Homo sapiens: one gene and its partners. The protein of the gene in region 3 interacts with the protein of the main gene of each other region in a pairwise test. Each region holds a gene or a part of one and is shown on either strand. Other genes may lie near its edges.

The links.
Region 1: the proteins of GRSF1 (region 3) and DACT1 interact in a two-hybrid assay, tested with the Homo sapiens proteins (one study listed by BioGRID).
Region 2: the proteins of GRSF1 (region 3) and HIVEP3 interact in a two-hybrid assay, tested with the Homo sapiens proteins (one study listed by BioGRID).
Region 4: the proteins of GRSF1 (region 3) and NOP53 interact in a two-hybrid assay, tested with the Homo sapiens proteins (one study listed by BioGRID).

What each region holds. Positions count from the first base shown.
Region 1 is NC_000014.9:58,640,939-58,647,961, reverse strand, and holds part of DACT1 (dapper homolog 1), read right to left. Parts: intron 6,371-7,023; coding exon 6,215-6,370; intron 2,705-6,214; coding exon of another isoform or gene 2,594-2,704; coding exon 828-2,593; 3' UTR 1-827.
Region 2 is NC_000001.11:41,579,901-41,586,923, reverse strand, and holds part of HIVEP3 (transcription factor HIVEP3), read left to right. Parts: intron 1-1,605; coding exon of another isoform or gene 1,606-1,618; 5' UTR 1,619-2,126; coding exon 2,127-7,023. Other genes in the region: uncharacterized LOC128125817, read left to right, coding at 1,606-1,618.
Region 3 is NC_000004.12:70,836,890-70,844,217, forward strand, and holds the start of GRSF1 (G-rich sequence factor 1), read right to left. Parts: upstream 3,002-7,328; 5' UTR 2,939-3,001; coding exon 2,582-2,938; intron 2,373-2,581; exon of another isoform or gene 2,291-2,372; coding exon of another isoform or gene 2,288-2,290; intron 2,257-2,287; exon of another isoform or gene 2,103-2,256; intron 1-2,102. UniProt on the Homo sapiens protein: Regulator of post-transcriptional mitochondrial gene expression, required for assembly of the mitochondrial ribosome and for recruitment of mRNA and lncRNA. Binds RNAs containing the 14 base G-rich element.
Region 4 is NC_000019.10:47,748,523-47,755,545, reverse strand, and holds part of NOP53 (ribosome biogenesis protein NOP53), read right to left. Parts: intron 5,369-7,023; coding exon 5,260-5,368; intron 4,639-5,259; coding exon 4,439-4,638; intron 4,027-4,438; coding exon 3,956-4,026; intron 3,035-3,955; coding exon 2,939-3,034; intron 1,020-2,938; coding exon 915-1,019; intron 838-914; coding exon 655-837; intron 199-654; coding exon 23-198; intron 1-22. UniProt on the Homo sapiens protein: Nucleolar protein which is involved in the integration of the 5S RNP into the ribosomal large subunit during ribosome biogenesis. In ribosome biogenesis, may also play a role in rRNA transcription.

The DNA of each region.
Region 1 (7,023 bases), on a different chromosome or scaffold from region 3:
AGTCATGCCCAAGGGTTACTTCATTAATAGTGAATGTCTCTGTGCCCAAGGACCAAAATTTTATCCCAAAACTAAATCCTCCAAGGAATGAAAGGTTGGACTGGCTACAAATTAGGGAGGGAAAAGAAGGCATCTAAATGTTGGATAAACGGCCCTAGAAGGGGTTATTAGGAACAGGGCCTAGGCACCAAGTGTGGCAAAAGTTTTTGTGAATCCTTTTAAGGTCCCTATCGAGGCTGCTATCTCTGGATTTAAGGTTTGGCCTCCAAGTCATGAGTCTAGTAACAGTTCTGAGAATAAAACCGAATGGGGATACATCTGAGAAATGTAGACTACATAAAAAAACTATAGAATACAATGACTGCCCCTCATACCTACTTCACACTATTGTATGTGGTGCCCCTCAACAGGAAAACCCTCATGGAGACACTGCCCTGAAGACTCAAGGAACAAATATAAATCCAAAAATTCCATCCACCTGACCTTGGGATCAAAAGATCTTATCCCAATAAAACTTGAACATCAAAACCTGTACCTTGCCGGATGCTCAGAAAGTTTAAAATAAAAAACAGCTGGTGCCACAAAACTCACTATCACCACCATTAAAACCTCAATATGTACTTCTAACTAGCAAAACATTCTTTACCTTCCATTAAAGGCACTAGCATCCATACGTGAAGATGAAACAATAATTTACCTTGGTTTTATATTTTTTTAAAAAGCATTCCATTAAAGTATTATACAAAAATGAAAACACCACCTTTTTAATTTTGGCAACTAGGGAGAAGAAAAAAAAACACACAAACTTTCTACACCAATGATGTCACTCAAACCGTCGTCATCAGTTTCAAAGAGCCAGACCGAAAGCGGAGGATCTTCTTCTTGAGGTTATGTGAGGCCTTAATTTTGACAAAGGTTTTTGCGGGGTGGTTGTGAAGGTCTGGGGCCGTTACCGTTTGAATGGGCAGAGTCTGGACAAACTGGGACCAAATTAAGCCCCCGCTTTCTTCAGAGTCGCTGGTGGTTGTGCTCTCCCCCACGAACTCGCCCTCGCTCACACTCGACTCGCTGTCCCCGAAGCAGTTGGTGGTGTAATTGCTCTGCTCGTCCTCACTGGTGTCCACCACGGTGGAGTGGAACAGGGACTCGCACTCGGCCGAGTACTCGGAGTCGCTAGCCACGTAGGCGTAGGGGCTGGCGTAGGGCAGAGGCACAGGCGCGGGGTACAGCCCCACATTCTCCCGGCGACCGCGCCGGGCCCTCCTCAGGGCCTCTTCGTAGGAAATCTCGGCCGAGGACTTCCACCGCCGGTAGTCAGTTCGCTTGTGCTTAGGTTTGGCCACCACCGCCTCCCGTCCGTGGCCATGCGCCCTGCTCCCCGCCCTGTGGCCCCCGCCCGCGGGCCTGCCGGGAACACCAGCCTCGGGCCCGCCCCCACTCTTCCTCCCCTTGGAGGAGGCTTTCTTGAGTTTCTTATTTGTATCCAAGTCATCTGGGAAGCGACACTTCTTGCTCCCGGCCCGCGTTTTCTCCCTGACGGTGGGCAAGCCGTTCTCCAGCCCCTGGAGGGCTGGGCCGCGGTGCTTCAGGCTGGAGTTCTTCACGACGCCCATGTTCCTGTGGCCCCGGTGGAGCCTGACACTGGGCTGCTGCCCCGGGATAAACTGGGCCTTGACCAGGTGCGCTTCCTCCAGGCTTTGGGAAGAGCCCTCGCTCTTGAAATCCAAGGCAGGCCTCTCTTCCACGGGGAAAGCTGTAGACAGCAGGGGAGGAGTGGCCGGGGGGACGCCCTGCAGGCTGTTTTTCTGTGACATCTTTTTCAGGGGCTGTACAACTTTGTTCTCCTGCGGCGGGGCAGGGCCTCTGCTAGGACTCTCTTTTGGAGAGGCCCCTGAGAGCTGAGCGCTTTCCTTAGGGGACTCCCCTGTCCCAATGGCGGAACACCGAGCATGTTCTTGCGAGGCTGGCTTGGCCGTTTTTGGCAGGTGCTTACTCTGAAGGTCGGAGGCAGCGCCTGAGGGGCAGCCCTCTGGCAGGGGCACCCTCTTGCTTTCGGCTTGTTCGGCCTTTGATTCTTTCGACCACTGCTTCGGTGGGGAGAATGTCCCATTGTTCAGAGAAGGTATCCCGCCAGAGGGCAGACACGCCTGTTTCGAATTCTTAAGGTTCACACTGTTGCCCTGTGAGACACCGCCCGGGGCTCTGACACAAACGCTCCCGTTCCTCAGAAGCCCTTTCGTGGGGTCAGCGTTCACGCTGGTTCTTGGTTTGTTGGTCCTTACAGGGTGTGTTTTTTTCTGGACCAGGCTCAGAATGTAGCCATCCATTTTCTTGCTGGATGAAGGATGGGAAGCAGACCACAGACTGCTTGGGGACGGTAAGGAACTGTCTGTTTTGACGGCATCTAGCTCAGATCCACCGCAAATGTCACTGGCATGGTTTCCAAGCCTGTCCTCTTCCCTCAGAGGGTTGCCCGTCAGACAAAGGAGAAACATTGGGCTCTGCACAGCCACAGCATGAAGTGGACTGGGATAGCGATATACATCATTCCCGTTTTTAGACACCAGATCACACTGGTACTTGGGATTCACATCTGCAATGACATCAAGGGAATTAAATTGTGGTGTGGAGAGGGAACGGCAAACTGCCCCTGAGGCCTGGTCTTCACAGTGGCCTTCTTTATATTCCAACAATCCTATGAGATCTGAAAAACAGTTAAAGGTACACTCTGAAGAAATGAATTGGTCAGCACCAGCTTGACTCTTTGGCCAATTTTTATGAAAAATCCATGGGTAAAAAGAGATTGCCAAGGATTAAAAAGTGCTGCCCTACCATTTCACATGTAGGTACTGCTACTGGATGAGGGGGAAATATTTAACAAAAATTTTTGACAGCATATGATATATCCTCTGAAGGAAAAAAATTCAGCCATTAAGAGTGTTTTCAAACTACTGCATAATAGAGGGAAAACACTTTAAAGTTTAGTGAAAATCATGATATAATACTAGAATATGATTATAATCTTATTAGGATCACATGTATGCAAAGAAAAAACATCTGAGATGAAGCACACCAAGATTCTAGTAGTAGTATTTCAGAATGATCAGAAGTAAGTGATATTTACTTTCTTCTTTATTTTCTGTTAAACTGTCTGTACTGCGTTTACAACTGGGAAACATTTTTTGAATCACTGTTTCTCTAGGCTGCTCTCCCCTCTGTTCTATTCCTGGCTTTCTTTAGGATAAACTGTACGTTCAGTAGGCTTTCTCCTCATTTTGTGTTTTTTTAAACCTAATTCTTAATGACATCCATTCAAATATAACTGTCAATTGAAAGGTGATGGAAACTGATCAAACTTCAGTAAAAACTGATCAGATTTAAATAATAATCGCCTTATGTTTTCAATAGTGATGCTAAAAAAATAAAACAGGGGCCAGGTATGATGGCTCACGCCTGCAATCCTAACACCAAAAGGCTGAGGCCAGAGGATCGCTTAGGCCCAGGAGTTCGAGACCAGCCTGGGCAACAGTGAGACTCCATCTCTCTACAACAAAATTTTTAATTTAAAAAAACTTTTTTAATATGATAAAGAATTCTTGATAAGATTTTAAAAGATTGAGTGGTAGTATTAATGGATAAATTTCCCACTTGTCAAAAATGTTTTTTTAATAGGATAAAGAATTCTTGGTAATATTTTAAAAGATCATGTGGTAATATTAATGGATAAATTTCCCATATCTTGAAAATGTAGATGCCAAAGTACAGCAAAATCAAGCTTGCTGTCTTAAAGGATTTTGATCTCTTAAGTTGGTGAATATTATAAATAACAAATCCATTTAATGACCTTCAGTTATCAGAGAAAATTAAAGTTGAGTTTATCAGTAATAATTTGTCCTCCATTGTATTTATTCATTCAAATACTGAGAACCTATATGTGCCTGATTCTATGTTGAGAAAGCTCCATAAACTTCAATGATAATTAGCGGTCTCAGGGAAAAAATAGTCTAGACCCAGAGATGATATGTAAAGAAAACATAATAAAACAAAAGTGCCATGTCCCCACCCACATGACCCCCCCCAATAAAGAGCTTGTTCTAAAAGGAAACCTCTCTAGCTAACATCCTTCCCCATCCTTCCTCTCCCAGCAACGTAAGCCCTATCTTTGCCTTACTTAAAGCCACACTGACAAACACTTCACTATTCATCCCTTTTCCCTCTTTAGAGTTGAACAAAACAGATATCCTAGCCCCCAAGGCCTGGTGCAACTGTCTCAATTATGTGAGGAAGTGGCATTTGGAAGAGCACGGGTCTGTCTTGAAGGAAAACCTAAACCAAAGTGCCTTTAATGGGTTTATAAAGTTTCCCTCTGAAACCAGATCTGTGGAATGAAGGGGAGCAATTACCAATGAACTTGAGGCCCAGACCCTCTAGATAACACAGTTCTGTGCTTCCTCAAATGATTGCTGCTGACAACACACAGATATGAAGACACCAGCCAATTAGCTCCCTCAGCTGCTCAGTGTTGTTTGCCTTGCCTGGACTCAAAAATTCAGGCTTATACCCAAGTGGAGAACACAGACAAACCAGGAGTGTGATGACTTGTGCCCAGGACCCAGAGCAATTCTAATCTTCATATTTTCTCTACTCTTATAAGAATTCACAATGTAACAGGACTAAGGAAGGAGTCTTGAGTTCCAGCAGCAACCCTGCCATTCAGCAGATGGAGAACCTCTGACAATTAGCTTATAAGCCAAAATTCCTCTTCTGTTAGATGAGAAGGTTGAAAACAACAATTTCTGAATTCCCTTGGGATGATGAAAAACGTGGACCTGGCAGTTAGGCCTGAGCTTAACTTCTGCCTCTGCCACTCACCATCTATAGAGCCTTAAATAACATATGTAACCTTACTAGGACTCATTTTTTTAATACATAAAATGGAGCTAACAAGACCTGTACTGTGCACGACTATTGGGAGGATTCATTGGAGATAAATACATACAGAGCATCCAGTAGTGTGTGACACATACTGGAAATGCAGAAACTCTTCTAGTACAATAGCATGATTCCTTCTGGGGGTCATTGCAAAGATATCCCAAAATAAGGAATAATGGCATGTGGGCACCCACTTAAAAGAAAAAACAAGCTGCCATCATGCAGAACATTCTGGAGAACATGAAAGGGCCATTGCTCCCTGAAGTGCCAACCAGTTCTTGGCCAGGCTGATGGACATATTTAACTTAATGTGAGTGTTAGACTGATTGATTGATTGAGATGGAGCCTCACTCTGTTGCCCAGGCTGGAGTGCAGTGGCACAATCTCGGCTCACTGCAACCTCCGCCTCTGGGGTTCAAGTGATTCTATTGCCTCAGCCTCTCAAGTAGCTGGGATTACAGGCACATGCTGCCACACCCGGCCGATTTTTGTGTTTTTAGTAGAGACAGGGTTTCATCATGTTGCCCAGGCTGGTCTTTTGTTTTTTGTTTTTTTTTTCTCTCTGCCGCCCAGGCTGGAGTACAGTGGTCCAATCTCGGCTCACTATGACCTCTACCTCCTGGGTTCAAGCAATTCTCCCTCAGCCTCCCGAGTAGCTGGGACTATAGGCATGTGCCACCATGCCCGGCTAATTTTTGTATTTTTAGTAGAGATGGGGTTTCACCATGTTGGCCAGGCTGGTCTTGAACTCCTGACCTCAAGTGATCCACCCACCTTGGCCTCCCAAAGTGCTAGGATTATAGTCATGAGCCACTGCACCGGGCCAACCCAGGCTGGTCTTGAACTCCTGACCTCAGGTGATCCAGCTGCCTAAGCCTCCCAAAGTGCTGGGATTACAGGTGTGAGCCACTGCACCTGGCTGAGTTTTAGCTTTACATAATTAAAAGAAGAAAACAGTTCCAAAATGAAAGAAAATACAGACAACCTAACAGCAAAGGCTCAGAAACAGAGCTCAAGACCTACAATATTGGGACAGGATTTCTAGAGATAAAGTGTCTTGCTGCTATCAAAATATATAACCAAGTAGCACCCAAAGGGTACTGGAATAGTTCTAGATACTCACCTAGATGAAACTGAGTTCTAGATGTAAGTATGGCACTAAATGCCGCAAAGTGATGAACCTTCATTTTTCCACCAGTGAAAGGTGCTGGAGCCAAATAACCTTTTAAGGGCCCTTGATGCCTTCCAATTAAAAATTTCTATCAGTGCTAAAAATTCTTACCTGCAGATTTGGGGCAACCATCTGAGAGACTCAAGGTCGCCTCCAAGGGGCTGCAAAAGCAGGTGCTGGAATGACAACTGGATAAACACTCACTGAACACCGAGTTAGAGGAATTGGAAAGGGATCCTGAAGCCCCATCACTCAGCTCATAAAACCCTACAAATAAAAACACCGTTGGAATTAACATCATGTCAAGAAATAATGCATATTCACGCTTAACAGGAAAATGAATAATCATTTAGGAAAAGGAGATTTTTTGTTTGTTTTTTGGCCAATTTTGATTCATTGGACTTTGGTGTCCTAATCTTATGGTCTTATTTCAAACAATCCTTAGGAAAAGGCAAAGAGCCCATAACTAGGGGTACATTTCAGAGTTACCCTCACCCTCAAATTGACCTTATTCCTTGACCCCGCCTTTGAACATGTCCAAGGAAAGAAACTTAGATCTGTCAAGCCTCATCTTTATCATGATTGTTTCAGAACAATAATAAGAGAAAAATCTAAGGAGCCCAAATGGTTTAAAAGAAAAAAAAAAAAAACTTTTGAAGTGGTCTCAGGAAGTTGAAGTGTGACTAATTTTCTAGCCCAGTTCTGACTTACTCAAGTTTCAAAGGAGGGCACCTCTTGCAGAAATTTGAATAGCTTTTATTTTTAAACTTGGGGGACTCCAATCACATTGATCTCATTACTAAAAATTTTGTTGTCTGAGTTTATTTCCCTCTTATTCCGATAAAACTGAATGGCAGACTTCTTTTTTGTTTATCCTCTCTGCACTGGAAACAAACTCCATTGCCATTTGCAGGTCTGGG
Region 2 (7,023 bases), on a different chromosome or scaffold from region 3:
TTTGTTCTGATTTGTTATTCTTATTTATGATTTTCTCATATTTATAGTTTGTCATTCTTCTATAAATATGGTTTTGTTATAGTTACTTTGAATTCTTTGTAGCACCAAGTAGAAAAGGCACACAAAAGGAGTGAACTTAGAGGATATGCTTTTTAGCTAAAAGATCAAATCACCTGCTCCTCCAAAGCATATCACAGTGTCCGAGGGCCCTGCCCTTTAAGAGACAATTATTTGAGTCTTAAAGACTTGTTCGTCTTCTGAGCACCTGCAAAAATGTAGTAAGTGGCATTTTCAAGTCTGTATCATCACACACCTAGTGAAACGAAGAGTGTGAGCATGAGGGGAGCCTGAGGGCAGGATGCCGGGGGTAGGGCATGCTCACAGGAGAAAAAGCAAGCACAGAGATGCTCATCACTCACCCAGGGCCTCGCCAAGGGATGCCAGGGGATGGACACCTGAGAAGGGGCTGGGGAACAAACTCTGGCCATGGGAGGCCTGGGTCCAGGTGGCAACACTGCCTGTTAGCAACACGGGACCTTCAGTAAGCCATCTTCATGATGTCCAAAGTCAGGTGGTTGGGTGAGATGGAGTCCATGGTGACTCCAGCCTTGGGATTCCGACCCTGTTCCTGGGGAGGAGGGCCCTGAGGATGCACCTGAGCCCAGGAAGCTGAGACTGCCCTGCTTGCAGCTGGCCCTAGGAGGAGGCACACACTTGGGGCTATATGCAGACCAACTTTGCTCCTCCACTTGAGGGCAATGATCCCCATATTTCCATGGCATCCCCAGGGCACTGACTGGACAAGGAAAGGCTGCAAAGCCAGAGGAACCTTCCAGAATGATCCTCCTGGCAATTGCTTGGATCAAGCAAATGGTCACAGCTGTGTCAGATTGTAAGTTCTCACAGGCTGTGGCAGTAGTTTGCAGTTTTGTCTTCAAACATGGGCTGGGGTGCGGGTTAGCAATGGGGTAAAAAGCAGTGAATGATGTCCCTTGTGGACACTTTCAGAACCCAGGGCCAGAGAGAAATACTAACCTGAGAATAATCTACCCCTTGGAAAACTCACCCCTGAATAAACCACAGGCACTTCCCTCCTGCACCAGCCATGGCCCCATCCAGAGTTCACCCAGCAGCATCTGCATCTCCAATGTCATTGGGCCCACTGCAGCTCCGAGGCACAGTCGAGGCAGGATTTGTTATCTGTTTTACCGATTAGGCAACTGAGGCTTAGAGAGCTTAGACCCACTCAGAGTGGATCACAAAACAGAGATGAGAGCCCAGGCCTCTGTCCCTAACCACCCTGCAGTTCCCAGAGCCCACTTTGCCTTCTGTTCTCAGCATCCCACATGGCCACAGTCCTCAGAAACACACTGGCATTCAGGTCACCCAACACTGACATGGGAGCGGGGGAGGAAAGAATTGCAGGGCTTGGACATGTGGAGCCGGAGCCTGTGGTTCTGCTTGAGTTTCCCTGGTTAACTTTTGAGGGGTCTCAGCCAGGTGTGGCACCGAGTCTGGGCTGCCCAGGCTGTGCATGAGTCCCAGTAACTCTGTCTTCTCTTTTGTGTGTGTGTATTTCTGTGTGTGTGTACATCTATCACACAGAAGAAGAGCGTGATTTCTCCTCCAAGGCCGTTGATCTCCAACCCAGAACTAAAGGGGAGAAGAGCCACCCCCAGCATCCAGCGTGGCATCTCTTGTGCCAGGACCAGGGATGACTGGGCCATGGACACAGATGTCTCCAACCTTCAACCGTTTGCATAGCACACGGGGGACTCGTGGGGGCCACCTGCCACTGCCAGCTGAAACAATACAATGGCAATACTGACATCCTTCATGACGTTTTCCCGACAGACATTCAGGCAGAAAGTGCTGGTGCGTTTTCTGTCTGCAAAGTAGAGGGCCATGCCTCACCAATAGAATAGCGTGGGCCCTGATGACCTGCTCCGAGTCCACTCACAGCCAGTGACACTTGCAAAAAACTCCCAAAGCCGTCTTGGGTTTGGCTCCCACAGCTCTTGACCAATGTGGCCAAAGCTGGACACCTCCTTGGGACACTGGGATTATTCATAAATGCAGCCCGCCCTGACTCTCCCTGAATAGCATCTGAAGTCTTTGTGAAGGTCATGGATCCTGAACAAAGTGTCAAGGGCACCAAGAAGGCTGAGGGAAGTCCCCGGAAGCGGCTGACCAAAGGAGAGGCCATTCAGACCAGTGTTTCTTCCAGCGTCCCATACCCAGGCAGCGGCACAGCTGCCACCCAAGAGAGCCCCGCCCAAGAGCTCTTAGCCCCGCAGCCCTTCCCGGGCCCCTCATCAGTTCTTAGGGAAGGCTCTCAGGAGAAAACGGGCCAGCAGCAGAAGCCCCCCAAAAGGCCCCCCATCGAAGCATCCGTCCACATCTCACAGCTTCCGCAGCACCCTCTGACACCAGCATTCATGTCGCCTGGCAAACCTGAGCATCTCCTGGAGGGGTCCACATGGCAACTGGTTGACCCCATGAGACCTGGACCCTCTGGCTCCTTCGTGGCCCCTGGGCTCCATCCTCAGAGCCAGCTCCTTCCTTCCCACGCTTCCATCATTCCCCCCGAGGACCTTCCTGGAGTCCCCAAAGTCTTCGTGCCTCGTCCTTCCCAGGTCTCCTTGAAGCCCACAGAAGAGGCACACAAGAAGGAGAGGAAGCCCCAGAAGCCAGGCAAGTACATCTGCCAGTACTGCAGCCGGCCCTGTGCCAAGCCCAGCGTGCTCCAGAAGCACATTCGCTCACACACAGGTGAGAGGCCCTACCCCTGCGGCCCCTGTGGCTTCTCCTTCAAGACCAAGAGTAATCTCTACAAGCACAGGAAGTCCCATGCCCACCGCATCAAAGCAGGCCTGGCCTCAGGCATGGGTGGCGAGATGTACCCACATGGGCTGGAGATGGAGCGGATCCCTGGGGAAGAGTTTGAGGAGCCCACTGAGGGAGAAAGCACAGATTCTGAAGAGGAGACTAGTGCCACCTCTGGTCACCCTGCAGAGCTCTCCCCAAGACCCAAGCAGCCCCTTCTCTCCAGCGGGCTATACAGCTCTGGGAGCCACAGTTCCAGCCACGAACGCTGTTCCCTGTCCCAGTCCAGCACAGCCCAGTCACTCGAAGACCCCCCTCCATTTGTGGAACCCTCATCTGAGCACCCCCTGAGCCATAAACCTGAAGACACCCACACGATTAAGCAGAAGCTGGCCCTCCGCTTAAGCGAGAGGAAGAAGGTGATCGATGAGCAGGCGTTTCTGAGCCCAGGCAGCAAAGGGAGTACTGAGTCTGGGTATTTCTCTCGCTCCGAGAGTGCAGAGCAGCAGGTCAGCCCCCCAAACACCAACGCCAAGTCCTACGCTGAGATCATCTTTGGCAAGTGTGGGCGAATAGGACAGCGGACCGCCATGCTGACAGCCACCTCCACCCAGCCCCTCCTGCCCCTGTCCACCGAAGACAAGCCCAGCCTGGTGCCTTTGTCTGTACCCCGGACGCAGGTGATCGAGCACATCACGAAGCTCATCACCATCAACGAGGCCGTGGTGGACACCAGCGAGATCGACAGCGTGAAGCCAAGGCGGAGCTCACTGTCCAGGCGCAGCAGCATGGAGTCCCCAAAATCCAGCCTCTACCGGGAGCCCCTGTCATCCCACAGTGAGAAAACCAAGCCTGAACAATCACTGCTGAGCCTCCAGCACCCGCCCAGTACCGCCCCCCCTGTGCCTCTCCTGAGAAGCCACTCAATGCCTTCTGCCGCCTGCACTATCAGCACCCCCCACCACCCCTTCCGAGGTAGCTACTCCTTCGATGACCATATCACCGACTCCGAAGCCCTGAGCCACAGCAGTCACGTGTTTACCTCCCACCCCCGGATGCTGAAGCGCCAGCCGGCAATCGAATTACCTTTGGGAGGGGAATACAGTTCTGAGGAGCCTGGCCCAAGCAGCAAAGACACAGCCTCCAAGCCCTCGGACGAAGTGGAACCCAAGGAAAGCGAGCTTACCAAAAAGACCAAGAAGGGTTTGAAAACAAAAGGGGTGATCTACGAATGTAACATATGTGGTGCTCGGTACAAGAAAAGGGATAACTACGAAGCCCACAAAAAATACTACTGCTCAGAGCTTCAGATCGCAAAGCCCATCTCTGCAGGCACCCACACATCTCCAGAAGCTGAAAAGAGTCAGATTGAGCATGAGCCGTGGTCCCAAATGATGCATTACAAACTGGGAACCACCCTGGAACTCACTCCACTGAGGAAGAGGAGGAAAGAGAAGAGCCTTGGGGACGAGGAAGAGCCACCTGCCTTTGAGTCCACAAAAAGTCAGTTTGGCAGCCCCGGGCCATCTGATGCTGCTCGGAACCTTCCCCTGGAGTCCACCAAGTCACCAGCAGAACCAAGTAAATCAGTGCCCTCCTTGGAGGGACCCACGGGCTTCCAGCCAAGGACTCCCAAGCCAGGGTCCGGTTCAGAATCAGGGAAGGAGAGGAGAACAACGTCCAAAGAAATTTCTGTCATCCAGCACACCAGCTCCTTTGAGAAATCTGATTCTCTCGAGCAGCCGAGTGGCTTGGAAGGGGAAGACAAACCTCTGGCCCAGTTCCCATCACCCCCACCTGCCCCACACGGACGCTCTGCTCACTCCCTGCAGCCTAAGTTGGTCCGCCAGCCCAACATTCAGGTTCCTGAGATCCTAGTAACTGAGGAGCCTGACCGGCCGGACACAGAGCCAGAGCCGCCCCCTAAGGAACCTGAGAAGACTGAGGAGTTCCAATGGCCCCAGCGCAGCCAGACACTTGCCCAGCTCCCAGCTGAGAAGCTGCCACCCAAAAAGAAGAGGTTGCGCCTGGCAGAGATGGCCCAATCATCAGGGGAGTCCAGCTTCGAGTCCTCTGTGCCTCTGTCTCGCAGCCCGAGCCAGGAAAGCAATGTCTCTTTGAGTGGGTCCAGCCGCTCAGCCTCGTTTGAGAGGGATGACCATGGGAAAGCCGAGGCCCCCAGTCCCTCATCTGACATGCGCCCCAAACCCCTGGGCACCCACATGTTGACTGTCCCCAGCCACCACCCACATGCCCGAGAGATGCGGAGGTCAGCCTCAGAGCAGAGCCCCAACGTTTCCCATTCTGCCCACATGACCGAGACACGCAGCAAATCCTTTGACTATGGCAGCTTGTCCTTGACAGGCCCTTCTGCTCCAGCCCCAGTGGCTCCACCAGCGCGGGTGGCCCCGCCAGAGAGAAGAAAATGCTTCTTGGTGAGACAGGCCTCTCTGAGCAGGCCTCCAGAATCTGAGTTGGAGGTTGCCCCCAAGGGAAGACAGGAGAGCGAAGAACCACAGCCCTCATCCAGTAAACCCTCTGCCAAAAGCTCATTGTCCCAGATTTCCTCTGCGGCCACCTCACATGGTGGACCCCCGGGAGGCAAGGGCCCAGGGCAGGACAGGCCCCCATTGGGGCCCACTGTGCCCTACACAGAAGCACTGCAAGTGTTCCACCACCCCGTTGCCCAGACACCCCTGCATGAGAAGCCATACCTGCCCCCACCAGTCTCCCTTTTCTCCTTCCAGCATCTCGTGCAGCATGAGCCAGGACAGTCTCCAGAATTCTTCTCCACCCAGGCCATGTCCAGCCTCCTGTCCTCACCATACTCCATGCCCCCACTTCCTCCCTCCTTATTTCAAGCCCCACCGCTTCCTCTCCAGCCTACTGTTCTGCACCCAGGCCAACTCCATCTCCCCCAGCTCATGCCTCACCCAGCCAACATCCCCTTCAGGCAGCCCCCTTCCTTCCTCCCCATGCCATACCCGACCTCCTCAGCACTGTCTTCTGGGTTTTTCCTGCCTCTGCAATCCCAGTTTGCACTTCAGCTCCCTGGTGATGTGGAAAGCCATCTGCCCCAGATCAAAACCAGCCTGGCCCCACTGGCAACAGGAAGTGCTGGCCTCTCCCCCAGCACAGAGTACAGCAGTGACATCCGGCTACCCCCTGTGGCTCCCCCAGCCAGCTCCTCAGCACCTACATCAGCTCCTCCACTGGCCCTGCCTGCCTGTCCAGACACCATGGTGTCCCTGGTTGTGCCTGTCCGTGTTCAGACCAATATGCCGTCCTATGGGAGCGCAATGTACACCACCCTTTCCCAGATCTTGGTCACCCAGTCCCAAGGCAGCTCAGCAACTGTGGCACTTCCCAAGTTTGAGGAACCCCCATCAAAGGGGACGACTGTATGTGGTGCAGATGTGCATGAGGTTGGGCCCGGCCCTTCTGGGTTAAGTGAAGAGCAAAGCAGAGCTTTCCCAACTCCATACCTGAGAGTGCCTGTGACATTACCTGAAAGAAAAGGCACTTCCCTGTCATCAGAGAGTATCTTGAGCCTGGAGGGGAGTTCATCAACAGCAGGGGGAAGCAAACGTGTCCTTTCACCAGCTGGCAGCCTTGAACTTACCATGGAAACCCAGCAGCAAAAAAGAGTGAAGGAGGAGGAGGCTTCCAAGGCAGATGAAAAACTTGAGCTGGTAAAACCATGCAGTGTGGTCCTTACCAGCACCGAGGATGGGAAGAGGCCAGAGAAATCCCACTTAGGCAACCAGGGCCAAGGCAGGAGGGAGCTAGAAATGCTGTCCAGCCTGTCCTCAGATCCATCTGACACAAAGGAAATTCCTCCCCTCCCTCACCCTGCATTGTCCCATGGGACAGCCCCAGGCTCAGAAGCTTTGAAGGAATATCCCCAGCCATCTGGCAAACCTCACCGAAGAGGGTTGACCCCACTGAGCGTGAAGAAAGAAGATTCCAAGGAACAACCTGATCTCCCCTCCTTGGCACCTCCGAGCTCTCTGCCTCTGTCAGAAACGTCCTCCAGACCAGCCAAGTCACAAGAAGGTACGGACTCAAAGAAGGTACTGCAGTTCCCCAGCCTCCACACAACCACTAATGTCAGTTGGTGCTATTTAAACTACATTAAGCCAAATCACATCCAGCATGCAGATAGGAGGTCCTCTGTTTACGCTGGTTGGTGCATAA
Region 3 (7,328 bases):
TTTGAATAACAGCAATTAATTCCAACTGTTTAAATTAGGAGCCAAAGAAGGTGACCTGGCAAAAGAGGTTGGTACCATAGAGCAGAGGGCCTTGAGTGTGGAGCTCAATGTGTGTCCTTCACTTGGTAGGCAAAGATAAGTTAATACAAGACACTGAGGACTGGGTAAATCAACAAGACAGCAGGACGCCTTGGGAATATTCCTCTGTCAGCTGGTATGCCAGACCAAGTGATTAAGGGAAAGATCTTAAAGACAACGGCAGCAGTGTGAGGCTACAGACTTGTAAAGTCTCTTTTATCGGATTAAGTAAAACTGGAATTTAGTAAGAATCCACGAAGCACTACAACCATAACCTAAGAAGACAACTCAGGCTTTAAGACTTGCACTCTACTGGGCCAGGTGCGGTGGCTCACGCCTGTAATCCCAGCACCTTGGGAGGCCGAGGTGGGCGAATCACGAGGTCAGGAGTTCAAGACCAGCCTGGCCAACATGGCAAAACCCCATCTCTACTAAAAATACAAAAAATGAGCCGGGTGTGGTGGCGTGTGCCCGTAATCCCAGCTACTCGGGAGGCTGAGGCAGGATAATCGCCTGAACCCGGGAGGTAGAGGTTTCAGTGAGCTGAGATCTCGGCATTTCACTCCAGCATGGGCAACAGAGCAAGACTCCGTCTCAAAAAAAAAAAAAAAAAAAGACTTGCACTCTACCGGACTAAGGACAGAGATATCTTTCTACTATCTGTCATTTTCTTTTCTTTTCTTTTTTCTTGAGACGGAGTTTCGCTCTTGTCGCCCAGACTAGAGTATAATGGCACAATCTCGGCTCACTGCAACCTCCCCGGGTTCAAAGGATTCTCCTGCCTCAGCCTCCCGGGTAGCTGGGATTACAGGCGCCCGCCACCCCGCCCGGCTAATTTTTTTGCATTTTTTTAGTAGACACGGAGTTTCACCATGTTGGTTAGCCTGCTATCGAACTCCTGACCTCAGGTGATCCACCCGCCGCAGCCTCCCAAAGTGCCGCGCCCAGCCCTATCTATAATTTTCATTAAGGCTTAATGTTAGGCCGGGCGCGGTGGCTCACGCCTGTAATCCCAGCACTTTGGGAGGCAGAGGCGGGCGGATCACGAGGTCAGGAGATCGAGACCACGGTGAAACCCCGTCTCTACTAAAAATACAAAAAATTAGCTGGGCGCAGTGGCGGGCGCCTGTAGTCCCAGCTACTCGGGAGGCTGAAGCAGGAGAATGGCGTGAACCCGGAAGGCGGAGCTTGCAGTGAGCCGAGATCATTCCACTGCACTCCAGCCTGGGCGACAGAGCGAGACTCGGTCTCCAAAAAAAAAAAAAAAAAAAGGCTTAATGTTTAGTTTTAAGGAATAAATGTAAGCAGTGTCTAACACATAGTAGATGCTCTACAGATATCACCGCAGTCAATTTCATAGAAAAAAAAAGAGAGAAGCTAGCTCACAAAGGTTTACTGGAGATGGTTTTGTTGTGGTTTTTGTAGACAACTTTCCCCATTTTTCCATAATTCCATAAGCATCACAAGCTTTTACAGAAAAAGGCAGCGTAAAGTATTGGGCCAGGATTCAAATCAATTAGCTCAGCCACTGGCAGACAGCAGCCATGCTGATTAGCCTCCCAGTCTCCCTAAGTTAAAGGAGAAGCACAAATTGAATTAAGATAAATATGACCTAAGGAATCAGGGGCTGGGTAGTTAAAAAGTGTGCAGACACTTCCCAGATGCCACGTACCAAGAAGAGAAAGGTTCATCTACAAAGCACAAAATATTTGCAATCTAACTACACACCGACTTTTCTAAAAAAATAAAGAAAAAATGGAAAGGAAAACATTGCAAATTCATTCCTGGGACCCCAAGTTGTGTCCTCAACCCTCAACGCTCCCTCCCATTCACCCCCTCCCCCCAACAGCTAAATCTCCAAACTGCTTTCCCAGACGAGGCGACACACAGTCCTTAAAGACCTTCTGTATGAGTGGAGTTGCAGAGGTGACCTTCAGTAAACCGGGACAGCTCGTCTTTCCCTGGGGACAGGAGAGGGAACGGCGCGATGGGGACAGGCTCCTTCCCTACAAGCCAGCCCACGCAACTGTGTGCGCGCACCTTCCCAGCAGCGGCCGACCGAGAGGCGCCGAGGGCCGCCCAGGCCTAGCGCTCGGGCTGCACGGAAACTCCCAACCCTCCGGCGGGCTCGGGCCTCGCAACTTCACAACCAGCCGGCGGAAAGCAAGAAGATGCGAGGTGGGGGCGTCAGCAGCCTCACGAAACCTACCATGGGCCAGGCGGGGAACAAGGCCTCAACATTCACCCCAGCCACACTTACACTGCCCAACCGACCAGAGACTCGAGGCGAGAACAAAACAAGCAGAAGACCCGACGCCTGGGAGAGCTTCCCTTGTTCCAGGGCCCAATAGGAGCACAGGGTGGACGGGGGCGGGTGTGCGGCGAGTGTCGCGGATCCCCGGGCGTGCCCGCGAGGCGCACACGGAGGGACGGAGGGGCGCGGGGGCGCGTGCACGCGGCCCGGGAGGGATCTCGCGCCAGGTCCCTCACGGCGCCCACGTACCTGGCTGTAGCTGCGCGTCGGGACGGCGGCCGCCGCCGCCAGCGACTGCGGCAGCAGAGAGGCACGGAGGGCAGAGTAGGACGCGGCGGCCGCGGCCGCGGCAGAGGTGGCCACAGCGGGAGGCCCCGCCAGCCTCCCGGGAGGCACAGGCCCGGTCTGGAGGCCACGCGTCTGGGAGGCAGCGGCCGCGGCGGCCCCGAGCAGCAGCAGCAGGCGGCGGCGGCCCGAGACGCCCGACGGGATAGAGCCAGCGGCGGAGTAGAAGGGCAGGCAGGCGGCGCCGGTGCGCCGGCAGCTGCTGCAGTTACAGCCGCAGCCCCGGAGCAGCGCCCCGAGTACCCAGCGCGTGCCGGCCATGGACTCCGGAGGCGGCGCAGGGCCTGAAGGCAGCTGCTCCAGCAGCGATGGTGGAACGGAAGTGGAATCCAGGGCCGGTTGGGGGTGGGGTGTGCCTGGCACATGCGCCGCGGGCACTGGGTGGGGGGCCTCCGAGAGTCGGAAGGAGGTGGAGGAGAGCGCGACGCTCCGCCCAGTCTCCGCCCTTGGGCGGGGCTGCCCATGGTTTGGGCGGGGCTGCCCATGGTTTGGGCGGGGCTGCCCATGGTTTGGGCGGGGCTGCCCATGGTTTGGGCGGGGCTGCCCATGGTTTGGGCGGGGCTGCCCATGGTTTGGGCGGGGCTGCCCATGGTTTGGGCGGGGCTGCCCATGGTTTGGGCGGGGCTGCCCATGGTTTGGGCGGGGCTGCCCATGGTTTGGGCGGGGCTGCCCATGGTTTGGGCGGGGCCCGGGGAAGTGGGTGCAATCGAACTGCTCTTTTTTCAGGCGGTGGAAACTGAGGCCCAAAGTAAGTGAGGCTAGGGGCCTGGCGCAGTGACTCATTCGTAGTGACTCATTCTTGTAATCCTAGCACTTTGGCAGGCAGAGGCGGGTGGACTGCCTGAGGTCAGGAGTTCGAGACCAACCTAGGCAACACGGTGAAATCCCGTCTCTACTAAAATACAAAAAATTAGGTCGGACGCGGTGGCTCCCGCCTGTAATCCCAGCACTTTAGTAGGCCGAGGTAGGGCGGATCACCTGAGGTCAGCAGTTCAAGACCAGCCTGGCCAACATGGTGAAACTGTGTCTCTACTAAAAACACAAAAATTAGCCGGGTGTGGTGACGGGTGCCCGTAATCCCAGCTACTCAGGAGGCTGAGGCAGGAGAATCGCTTGAACCCAGGAGGCGGAGGTTGCAGTGAGCCAAGATCGTGCCACCGCACTGCAGCCTGGGCGACAGAGTGAGACGCCATCTCCAAACAAACAAACAAAAAAATTAGGTTAGGGCCATCCTGCTCTGGGTAGGGCCGAGAGCTGTAGCACAAGTCTGTGCTGCCCTGCGCTGTGCCACCGAAACCCGTGGTGTGAGTGGCTAAAGAACCCTTTCTGAAAGGAATTGTGATACCTTGGTTATAAAAAAATCGTTGGGATAATATCAGAGATTTGGTACCCCCCGAATTTGAGGTATGTGAGGAAGGAGAACTTCGTTGTTTTAAAATGAAATATAGGCCTGGCGTGGTGGCTCATGCCTATAATCCCAGCGCTTTGGGAGGCTGAAGTGAGAGGATCACTGGAGCCCAAGAGTTCCAGACCAGCCTGGGCAACATAGGGAGACCCCGTCTATACAAAAAATAAATAAAGCTGGGTGTGATGGCGTGGGCCTGTAGTCCCAGCTACTTGGGAGGCCGATTGCTTCAGCCCAGAAGGTAGAGGCTGTGGTAAGCTATGATTGCCACCACTGAACTCCAGCCTGGGTGACAGAGTGAAACCCTGTCTCTAAAAAAATAAAAGAAAACATATATATTTATTATGTACTGATAATACATAACAAAGGTGAACCCTCCCCTAATGAAACTGTATTCACAAGTGAACACACAGAGATTTGCACACACATACACAAAGACTGGTTGTGCAGCTTTTCTCCTCCTGAGCCAGGACTTGTCAAAGACAAGCAAAAGGAAGTTGTTAGAGTAAAAAATAAGAGAAAGCTAGTATTTTTAAAAACTCCTTACTGTGGAAAATGTCAAACAGAAGAGCAGAATGAATTTCCAGAACTTCATAAATTGTCAACACTTTTCAGTCTTGTTTCATCTATCCCCTACCACCATCTTCCAGACCTTATTTTCTTTGCTAGAATATTTTAAAGCAATGGGTATTACATTTAAAGTTTGACTTGTTTAACCTGGACTACTTTTAGGTAAGGAAAATTCAGTATTTCTTAGAAAACCCTTTCCCCAACCAAAAAACAAAGAACAAGAAAAAAATTGATAGGCTTGGCTCTATGAACCTGGAGTATCAAAGAAAAAGGGGTTTAGTTTTGTTTTTTGGGCTAAAATACAGTCCGACGGAGAGTATTGTCATTTTTATACAAAAACAGGGACAAAAGAAAAGGCAACAGTGCAAATACTCCATCTTCCAGGAAGGGAGGCTGGGATGCCTCAGTGTTAAAATGACAAAAGAAAACCCCAGAGCAAGAACCATGATCCCTCAGAGGAGTCCCAGAAATGTCCAAGACAGCCTGGCTGGGAGAGGGGGTGTGGGAAGGGCAGGCCCCCAAGAGAGGTCCCCACATCCTCTGGCTAGAGGCTAGGCCCAGGACCCACCAATGCCAGCAGCCCTCACCTCCCTTTGGGGTGAGAGCAGGTGCTGAGGTCAGGCTGGTTTTTGTTTCCCACTGCTTGTTCGTGATTTGTTCTTGGATACCTGGAAAGGGGCCAGTTGAGGCCTCAGGGGTTGAGGCCCCTCTGGAAATGTGGTTCCTGGGAATGGGCCTGGACATAGAAGCCACTGGATGTCTCTTCCCTGAACAGTAATTTTGTTCATCAGTAATCCTGTAACTTCCCAAGGAAAACAAAGAACAGGCTAGTCTTCCCCACCCCAGCCAAAAAAGAGAAGGGGGTTTCTTCATCTGCAAGATTTGGGAATCCTAGAGTTACTTATTTATATAGAGACAGGGTTTTGCTCTTTTGCCCGAGCTGGGGTGCAGTGGTGGGAATATGACTCACACTAGCCTTGACCTCCCGGGTTCAAGTAATCCTCCTGCCTCAGCCTCCCAAAGTGCTTGGGATTACAAGCATGAACCACCACACCTGACCTATTTTTCTTTTCGTAAGCCTCCCTTTCAAGAAGGAAAATGGGTTAGCCCTTCCTAACAGATCATCACTACAAATAACAGGTTGCTGATGTATTGGAGACTCTGCCTATATTTACTCTTGCCCTCATTTTCTTAATAGCAGCAGTCATCATCTATAACATAAAAATCTGAATGGATTGGAAACCTAAATAGACAGAAATCCTGTACTTTATAATCAGGAGTATAAATAATAAGAGGCAGCCTGGGCAACCTGGCGACATCCCGTATCTACTAAAAATACAAAAAATTAGCTGGGCGTGGTGACACCTGCCTGTAGTCCCAAAAGGTCACACGCTCTCTCACAGCACAAACTGACCCTAAAACCGGAGCCCACAAGGTTGAGGCTTCAGTGAGCTGAGACCGCACCACTGCACTCCAGCACTCCAAAGTAGCACCTGCCATCCTCATGACAGAGTGAGACCCTGTCTCAAAAGTAAATAAATAAATAAAATTAAATTATAAGAGGCCATTGGTTTGGACTGAGCTCTTCTACTATGCCCAAAAGACCAAACCAAAATGCAGTTACTCACCTTCCACAAGACCAAGCTGAAACTAAGTTTATTTGACCTTCTGAGTAATCAGGAGAGACAGATAATGGCCAAATCCTCAAACAGACTGGTGTTAGCTGGCAGGATAAGGAAGGCCCCTTTGCTTTGACCTTTATAGGGAAAATACCTGAAACAACCAATCTGCTTTGTATTCTCTGTTTCTACTTTCCTTGGCCCTTTTCTATCTACAAACCCAACCTCCTTTGCTCAGCTCATCAAAACACTCACTCTATAGAATGAGATGTTGCCCGATTCTAGAATAGAAAATAAAAGCCAATTAAGATTTATAAAAGCTGAGGCCGGGCGCAGTGGCTCAAGCCTGTAATCCCAGCACTTTGGGAAGCCGAGGTGGGCGGATCACCTGAAGTCGGGAGTTCGAGACCAGCCTGACCAACATGGAGAACCCCCTCTCTACTAAAAATACAAAATTAGCTGAGCATGGTGCGCATGCCTGTAATCCCAGCTACTCAGGAGGCTGAGGCAGGAGAATTGCTTGAACCCGGGAGGCAGAGGTTGCAGTGAGCCGAGATCGTGCCATTGCACTCCAGCCTGGGCAACAAGAGCGAAACTCTGTCTCAAAAAACAAAAAAAAAAAAATTTCTAAAAGGCGTGTGCGGTGGCTCACGCCTATAATCCCAACACTTTGGAAGGCCGAGGCGGGCAGATCACTTGAGGTCAGGAGTTCAAGACCAGCCTGGCCAATATGGTGAAACCCCATCTCTACTAAAATACAAAAATTAGCTGGGCATGGTGGTGTACACCTGTAATCCCAGCTACTTGGGAGGCTGAGGCAAGAGAATCGCTTGAACCTGGGAGGTGGAGGTTGCAGTGAGCTGAGATCGCGCCACTGCATGCTAGCCTGGGCGACGGAGAGAGACTCTGTCTCAAAAAAAAAAAAAAAAAAGATTTGTAAACTAAATTCATTGTAATTTTGTCTTTTGACAGTTCTGGCAACTGACAAAGGGACCTAAAGGACACTGCTGATGACTTCTGAGACTCCCGGAGGAATATCAGAGAGGTGCCACAGAGC
Region 4 (7,023 bases), on a different chromosome or scaffold from region 3:
GAACCCCCGGCCTGGTTCTCACTTGAGCCGCCCCAGCCTTCGGGGCTTGTCAGCCTCAGCCTCCCGCCGCGCCTGCCGCCGCCTCTGCCGCCGCGCCAGCTCCGCCAGCCTCAGGGCCACCTGGGCCTTGATCCCGCGCAGCCGGAACAGCTCCTGGTGCCGGAGCCGGGCGGCCCGCAACGCGGCCTGCTGTACCCGCTGTGGAGACGGGGGAGGGTCAGGGCTCAGGCCGGTGCTGCCCACACAGGGAGACCTTCTCTCTACACAGGGAGCCTTCCCTGCACAAACCTGCCTGTCCCCGGAGGCCCTTCCTAACCCCGTCACATCAGCGGCCCCTCCAGTGCCTTCCCAGCAGCTGTTTGCTGAAGCCCCTTTTGTCATCCATCTCCCCTGGTCTGCGGTGCAGAAACCTCCCCCCACCCCGCCCCTCAAACAGAAGCGCCAGGGACCCTGTCCCACCCCAGCCCGAGCCCTGCCTGGAAGAGGCTGGGAAATGAGTCTCAGCTGTGAGGATCCCAAACAGCCCAAACCACAGGCCACATGCGGGGCTTGGGGTGTGCAGGCTGCCCGCAGCACCCAGGGCAGCCCATGGTGGGAGGAAGGAAGGAAGGGGGCGAGGCATCAGAGGCAGGCCCCGCTGGCCCAGGCGCTCACCAGCCTGTGCACAGCCTTCTCCCGCCGCCGCTGCTGCTCCGTCTTCTTCTCTGTGGTGGCCAGGCGGGCGGGCGTGGGACAGACCTCGGCATCCCCAGCCTCCGGCCCCTCGCCCTGGCCTGGCTCCCCCTCACCATCCGACTCCTCCAGCAGCCCCTCGCACAGCTCCTGGAATGTGGACTCCTGGGGAGGCGGGGTGCAGTGTCAGGGGTGGGTAGGAGGCCCGGGGAGGGGAGGGAGTGGGCAGGTGCGGGGCTCACCTGGGTGGCGGCCTGCTCCGTGGCGGGCAGGGCCAGCTGCCGCTCCAGCTTCTCCGCCTCCTTCTGCCGCTGCAACTCCACCTCGTGGGCCGCTGAGAGCAGGGTCTGAGGGGCGGGAGTGAGGATGGGTCCCTGAACCCCTCCTGGGACACTGAGACTAGACCCTCTTACCTCCCATCTGTCCCTCATCCAGTGCCCGTGGATCCCGCCCCGGCCCAGGCTTTCCTCCCCACACCCCGTCTACCAGCACACCCACCCTGCACAGAGCCAGAGGGCACCTCAAACCCTCGCCCTCACACCTGCTCTGCACGTCTGTGAAGGCAGTCTGACCTGCACGCTTCACATTTTTTTTTTGAGATAGAGTTTCTGTCTTGTTGCCCAGACTGGAGTGCAATGGTGTGATCTCAGCTCACCACAACCCCCGCCTCCTGGGTTCAAGCGATTCTCCTGCCTCAGCCTCCCGAGTAGCTACTATTACAGGCATGTGCCACCATACCCGGCTAATTCTGTAACTTTAGTAGAGATGGGGTTTCTCCATGTTGGTCAGGCTGGTCTTGAACTCCTGACCTCAGGTGGTCCACCTACCTCGGCCTCCCAAAGTGCTGGGATTACAGGTGTGAGCCACCATGCCCGGCCCACAGTTTCATCTATGTGAATTGGTCAGGGTGGGCTGGTCCCTGAGACAGGAAGCCTGGCAGCCCAAGACCACACGAGACAGGGAATTGCGGGGGTGATGGCTGACATGTGTGAGGTTTCCTTTACGGACAGTGAAAATGTTCTAAAATTGACTGCGGGGATGGTTACACAATGGTCACTAAAAGCCACTGAATCACATACTCTAACTAGGCTGACCGTATGGTTAAGTGAATTTTATCTCTACGAAGTAGTTCTGTACAAATCTAAAAGTGAATGTCTGATCTCCACGCCCCCTCCCACATCTGGTCCAGGAACAGATGGCAGTGAGCGGCACCCTCACGCTTTCAACCATGAGCACACTGTTGCTTTTTTCCGCAGACACTTTTCTCTACCAGATGAGGAAGCTGCCTCTGTTCCTGGCTAGCTATCTCCTTCTTATGAATGCTGAAAACGATTCGGACAAGCGGTCCTGCATCTACCGCAAACATCTCAGCATCTCTCCAGTCACGTGACCCCATGAGAAGGGCTGTTCCTTGAGGGAGGGTTGTGCTTGTTTTTTGAGTCTCGCTCTGTTACACAGGCTGCAGTGCCGTGGTGCGATCATAGCTCACTGCAGCCTGGACCTCCTGGGCTCAAGCAATCCTCCCACCTCAGCCTCCCAAGCAGTTGGGACCACAGATGCGTGCTGCCATGCCCTGCTAATTTTCTGTATTTAGTAGAGACAGGGTTTCACCATGTTGGTCAGGCTGGTCTCCAACTCCTGACCTCCAATGATCTGCCCGCCTCAGCCTCCCAAAGTGCTGGGATTACAGGTGTGAGGCACCGCACCCGGCCAAGGGAGGGGTTTTTGTCCCCTTTGTCCACAGCATCTGTGCTCAACAGATGCCCGCTAAATGCACAGTGGCTCCAGCTAGACTTTCCCATCGCTGAGCTAGCCTCGCCCATATATAACTGTCACTTGGCTGCCAGTGTGCCACCGTGTCACCACAGCCTTTTTCATCTCTGCCCCACAGGCTTCCTGGAAGGCGCCACGGTCTCTCTCAACTCTGTGCCTTTGCAGTGCTGTTCCCACCACCTGGAAAACCCACTCCCCTCCTCCCACTGCAAACCCCTCCCTCAGCCTCTGCCTCGGCTCAGGCGACCCCTCCTCCCGGGAGCCCTTCCTGACCCCCCAGGCTGGGCCAGGTGCCCCGTCTGGGCTCCCAGCCCCAACCACTCTGCCCATCACTGTCTGGGAACAGGTCTCTTGCACTGGACCGTGAGCCCCGTTGCGGACAGGCCCAGGGCTGTCTGGGTCATTGGAGTTCCCAGCACAGGGAGGAAGCTAGTGAAGGCCTGACCAAGAGGCAGAGCCCACTGAGGAGGGAGGCCTGGACGGGGCAGTGTACCTGGTGGTCTTCAAAGGATGGATTGTAGGAAGCTCCGGCAGGCGCCACCTCCACGGCGGGTGCCTGGGACGGCTTGGTGTGCAGGCGTGCTGGCCGCTGTGGAGAAAAGGCCGAGGCAGGGTAAGGCCGTGCGTTGGGGCTGCGGGTGACCCAGGACACAGCCATGGGGCAGATGCTCCAGGCCTTGCCAGTGGTTGGGTGTGGGAAGAGCTCAAGGGGCATTCAGGTGACTCCAGAGCAAGACTCCATCTCAGAAAAAGGATAGCAGCCTATCCTCTGCTACCCACGAGGCTGAGCCCCGGAGATTGTAAGCACCTGGGCTCTAACACTTGGGGTCCAGCAGCTCAAGAAGGAGGCTGCAAATCCAAACTCAAACCCGTGACACTTCTGCCACTTGCCAGCACGGGCTCCACCTTCTCATGTGCTACCTCTTTACATTCTCCCCACCGACCCATGATCTAAGTACAATTTCATCTGTATTTTATTTTATTTTTTTTTTTGAGACAGAGTTTCGCTCTTGTTGCCCAGGCTGGAGTGCAGTGGCATGATCTCGGCTCACTGCCACCTCCACCTCCCTGGTCCAAGCGATTCTCCTGCCTCAGCCTCCCTAATAGCTGGGACTACAGGCACGTGCCACCAAGCCCAGCTAATTTTTTTTTTGTATTTTTAGTAGAGACAGGGTTTCACCACGTTGGTCAGGCTGGTCTCAAACTCCCGACCTCAGGTGATCCACCTGTCTCGGCCTCCCGAAGTGCTGGGATTACAGGCGTGAGCCACCATGCCCGGCCCTCATCTGCATTTTAGAGGAAGATATAGGTTGCAGAAAGGTGAGACCACCTTCCCAGGATCAGTCAGCACTGGAGCTGGGACAGGAATCCCAGCCACCTGGCTCCAGCACAGAGTTCTCGGCCACTGGGATGGAAGGGCTCTGAGACAGACTCTACTGCAGGAACACAGAGCAGCTCCCGGCCCTCCTCACCCTCCCATCACCCAGGATGCCCTTCCCACACATCTCACCTTCACTCCTTTCTTCTTGGTCTGCTCCAGGAAAAACTCATCCTGGCCAACCAACGGCCTGTCCAGGGGGTCTGTGGATACAGCGAGGGGAGCTGCTGGGACAGTCCCAGCATGGAAGAGGCACCAAAGGCTCCCCCCCAATCCCTCCACATTTCAAAAAGGTGACCCTGAAGCTCAGGCAAGGGAAGGACTGATTCTAGACCCCAAGGGCCTTGATCACCAGGACAAAACTGTGTCTGGACGGGTTCAGAAAGTGGAAGAGACCAAAGCTGAAGGCTTCCTTTCCTGAAGCCTCACAACTCAGGAAAGGAAAAGCACGAGTGGGAAACGGCCGCCCCTTCAGGACGCACGACTCTGCTGGGAGGTCACCAAAGCACCCACAAAGCACTCCCTTTCACACTGTACTCTCGTGCAGTGCACAACACACACAAACTGCACATGGCCGTCCTGTCCCCATTCATAGGTGACAGCAGGATCACTCACTGTCTGAGGCCCAGAGGTCGTAGAAGGGCCGCTCTACGGTGTCCTGGGGCCCGGGCTTGGCCCTTGTTGCAGAAGGGTTGAGGAGCCGGGCCTGGGCCCTGCGCACCTCCCGGGGCAGCTCGCCCTGCTTGGCCAGCTTCTCCCATAGCTGCTCCTTCCGCCTGAGCTTCTTGGCGTTGGGGACCTGGTGGGCGAGGACGCTGGTCGGGGAGAGGGGGCACAAGTGCAGCAGGTGAGGTGGCAGCCTGAACGGCAGCAGGGCCTCCTCCCCGTCGGGCTTCCTCCACCATTAAGGCAGCTTCAGCACCCCCTCTCCAAAAGGTGGCACTCCGCCCCCTCTTCAGAGAACTCCTCTCCCCACGTCTGTCTCCAGCCTAGGCCTCCCCTCTGAGCCCCAGACTCAACGAAGCAACAGCCCCGTCCTGGACATACCCCAGGCACCTCACACCACCACGTCAAAACCAACCTCAGCATCACCCGAAATCCCACTCCTCCACATCCCCATCTCAGGGGAAGGCCAGCTGTCCACCCTCTCACCCGCTCATGCCCCAAGACCCACCTGATGTGCCTCCTGAACACGCCTCCCACTCAGCCCCTCCTCTCCAACCCCGAAGCCCCCAGCTGGGTCCAGGCCCCTCCTCACCTGCCTCGGCCCAGCACCAGGGCACCCAGACTCCCTCCCTCTAATCTGCACTCCGAAGCCCAAACCTGAGCCTGCCCTACCCTTCAAATGACCCTCACCTACCAGCCCCCAGCCCCGGAAACCCTTTAGGACCAGAGTCTGGTGGGAAAGAAGGGCCCAGGGATGCTGGGACACTCACTCTTTGGGGGCAGGGACTTTGGATGTGTTCTCGAGGATGAGGTCAACCCGAAGGGGTTTCTTGAGAAGCAGTGACTTCTTCTGGACTTTGGTTCTCTTCTTTGTCAGCCCTAAGAATGGGAAAGAGAACAAGTCAAGGCCTCAGCCCTACCCACTGCCAAAGACCACCCACCCTATTCACCTCCATGGGAGCCATCAGACCTGAATCCCAAGTCACCCCAGGAGACTTGGAGGTCCCCAGGCTCCTACCTGGAGGTAGAGGCCCCTAAGGATGGGGCCCAAGGTGCCCAAGCTCTGACCCTCCACAACCAAGTGCTGGGCCAGCAGGAGGCAGGCCCCATGCTGGGGACACGAAGAGTCACGCCCACAGCCACATAGGAGGGTCTTCCAGACAAACAGGGAACCTCTTCCCTGCATGGTGGCTCACGCCTGTAATCCCAGCACTCTGGGAGGCTGAGGTGGGAGGATCGCTTGAGCCCAGGAGTTTGATGCCAGCCTGAGCAACATAGTGAGATCTCATCTCAGGGGGAAAAAAAAAAGGAAGAAAGCAAGTCATCAGTTGACACTGAAGCCCAGGGAGGGCCACAGAAGTGGACTTGGGACCCAGGATGGCCACTTCTCAGCATAACTTCTAGTTCTCTGGTTTTTACTGTCTTTTTCCTCCCACAAAGATACCTGTGGTTTTTACTTCAAAAGCCTAACAGTTAAAAGCAGTAACTCTACAGCAAAACACTCTAGAATGGAATAACACCCTTGCATGGACTGTGGGACCTCACACAAGAGGCTTAGCTCCTCCGTGCCCCCAAAATGAGGATGTGGATACCTCCCTCACTAGGCCGTTATGAAGATGTAATCATTTAAGGCCCACAAAGCACAGGGGCTGACCTGGTTGACTGCTCACAACCACTATGATCTTTGTCCGTGTTTCCTTACTAAAGTGGAACCCATAAACTGCCTCTTTCCTGCCCCCCAAAGAGGCTTCCCACTCGCCAAAGCACGCCGGTAACTACTTTCCCATCTGTTCATTACGGGCAGGTCACTGACTTACCCTTTACACTCACACACCAGATCAACTCACTTCGGTCAAGGCTGACTTCTCTAATAACCCCCCACTTTTTTTTTTTTTTGAGACAGAGTCTTGTAACCCAGGCTGGAGCGGAGTGCAATGATGCGCTCTTGGCTCACTGCAACCTCTGCCTCCCAGGTTCAAGCAACAATCCTGCCTCAGCCTCCTGAGTAGCTGGAATTACAGGCATGCGCCACCACGCTCGGCTAATTTTGTACTCTTAGTAAAGACGGGGTTTCTCCATGTTGGTCAGGCTGGTCTCAAACTCCCGACCTCAGGTGATCCACCCGCATCAGCCTCCCAAAGTGCTGGGATTACAGGCGTGAGCCACCACGCCCAGCTTGAGACAGAGTCTTGCTCTGTCGCCCAGGCTGGAGTGCAGTGGTATGATCTTGGCTCACTGCAACCTCTGCCTCCCGGGTTCAAGCGCTTCTCAGTAGCTGGGATTACATGCGTGTACCATGACGTCCGGCTAGTTTTTGTATTTTTAGTAGAGACGGGGTTTCGCCATGCTGCCCAGGCTGGTCTCCAACCCCTGACCTCAAGTGATCCGCCCCACCTCGGCCTCCCAAAGCGCTGGGCTTACAGGTGTAGGCCACTGCACCCAGACTCTAATAACCACTTTTTACCTGCCTATTGGAAGTCTCCTGTACCTCAGGGCAGCTCCTTCCACTCTATCTGGTCACTGAACCAGGTCCG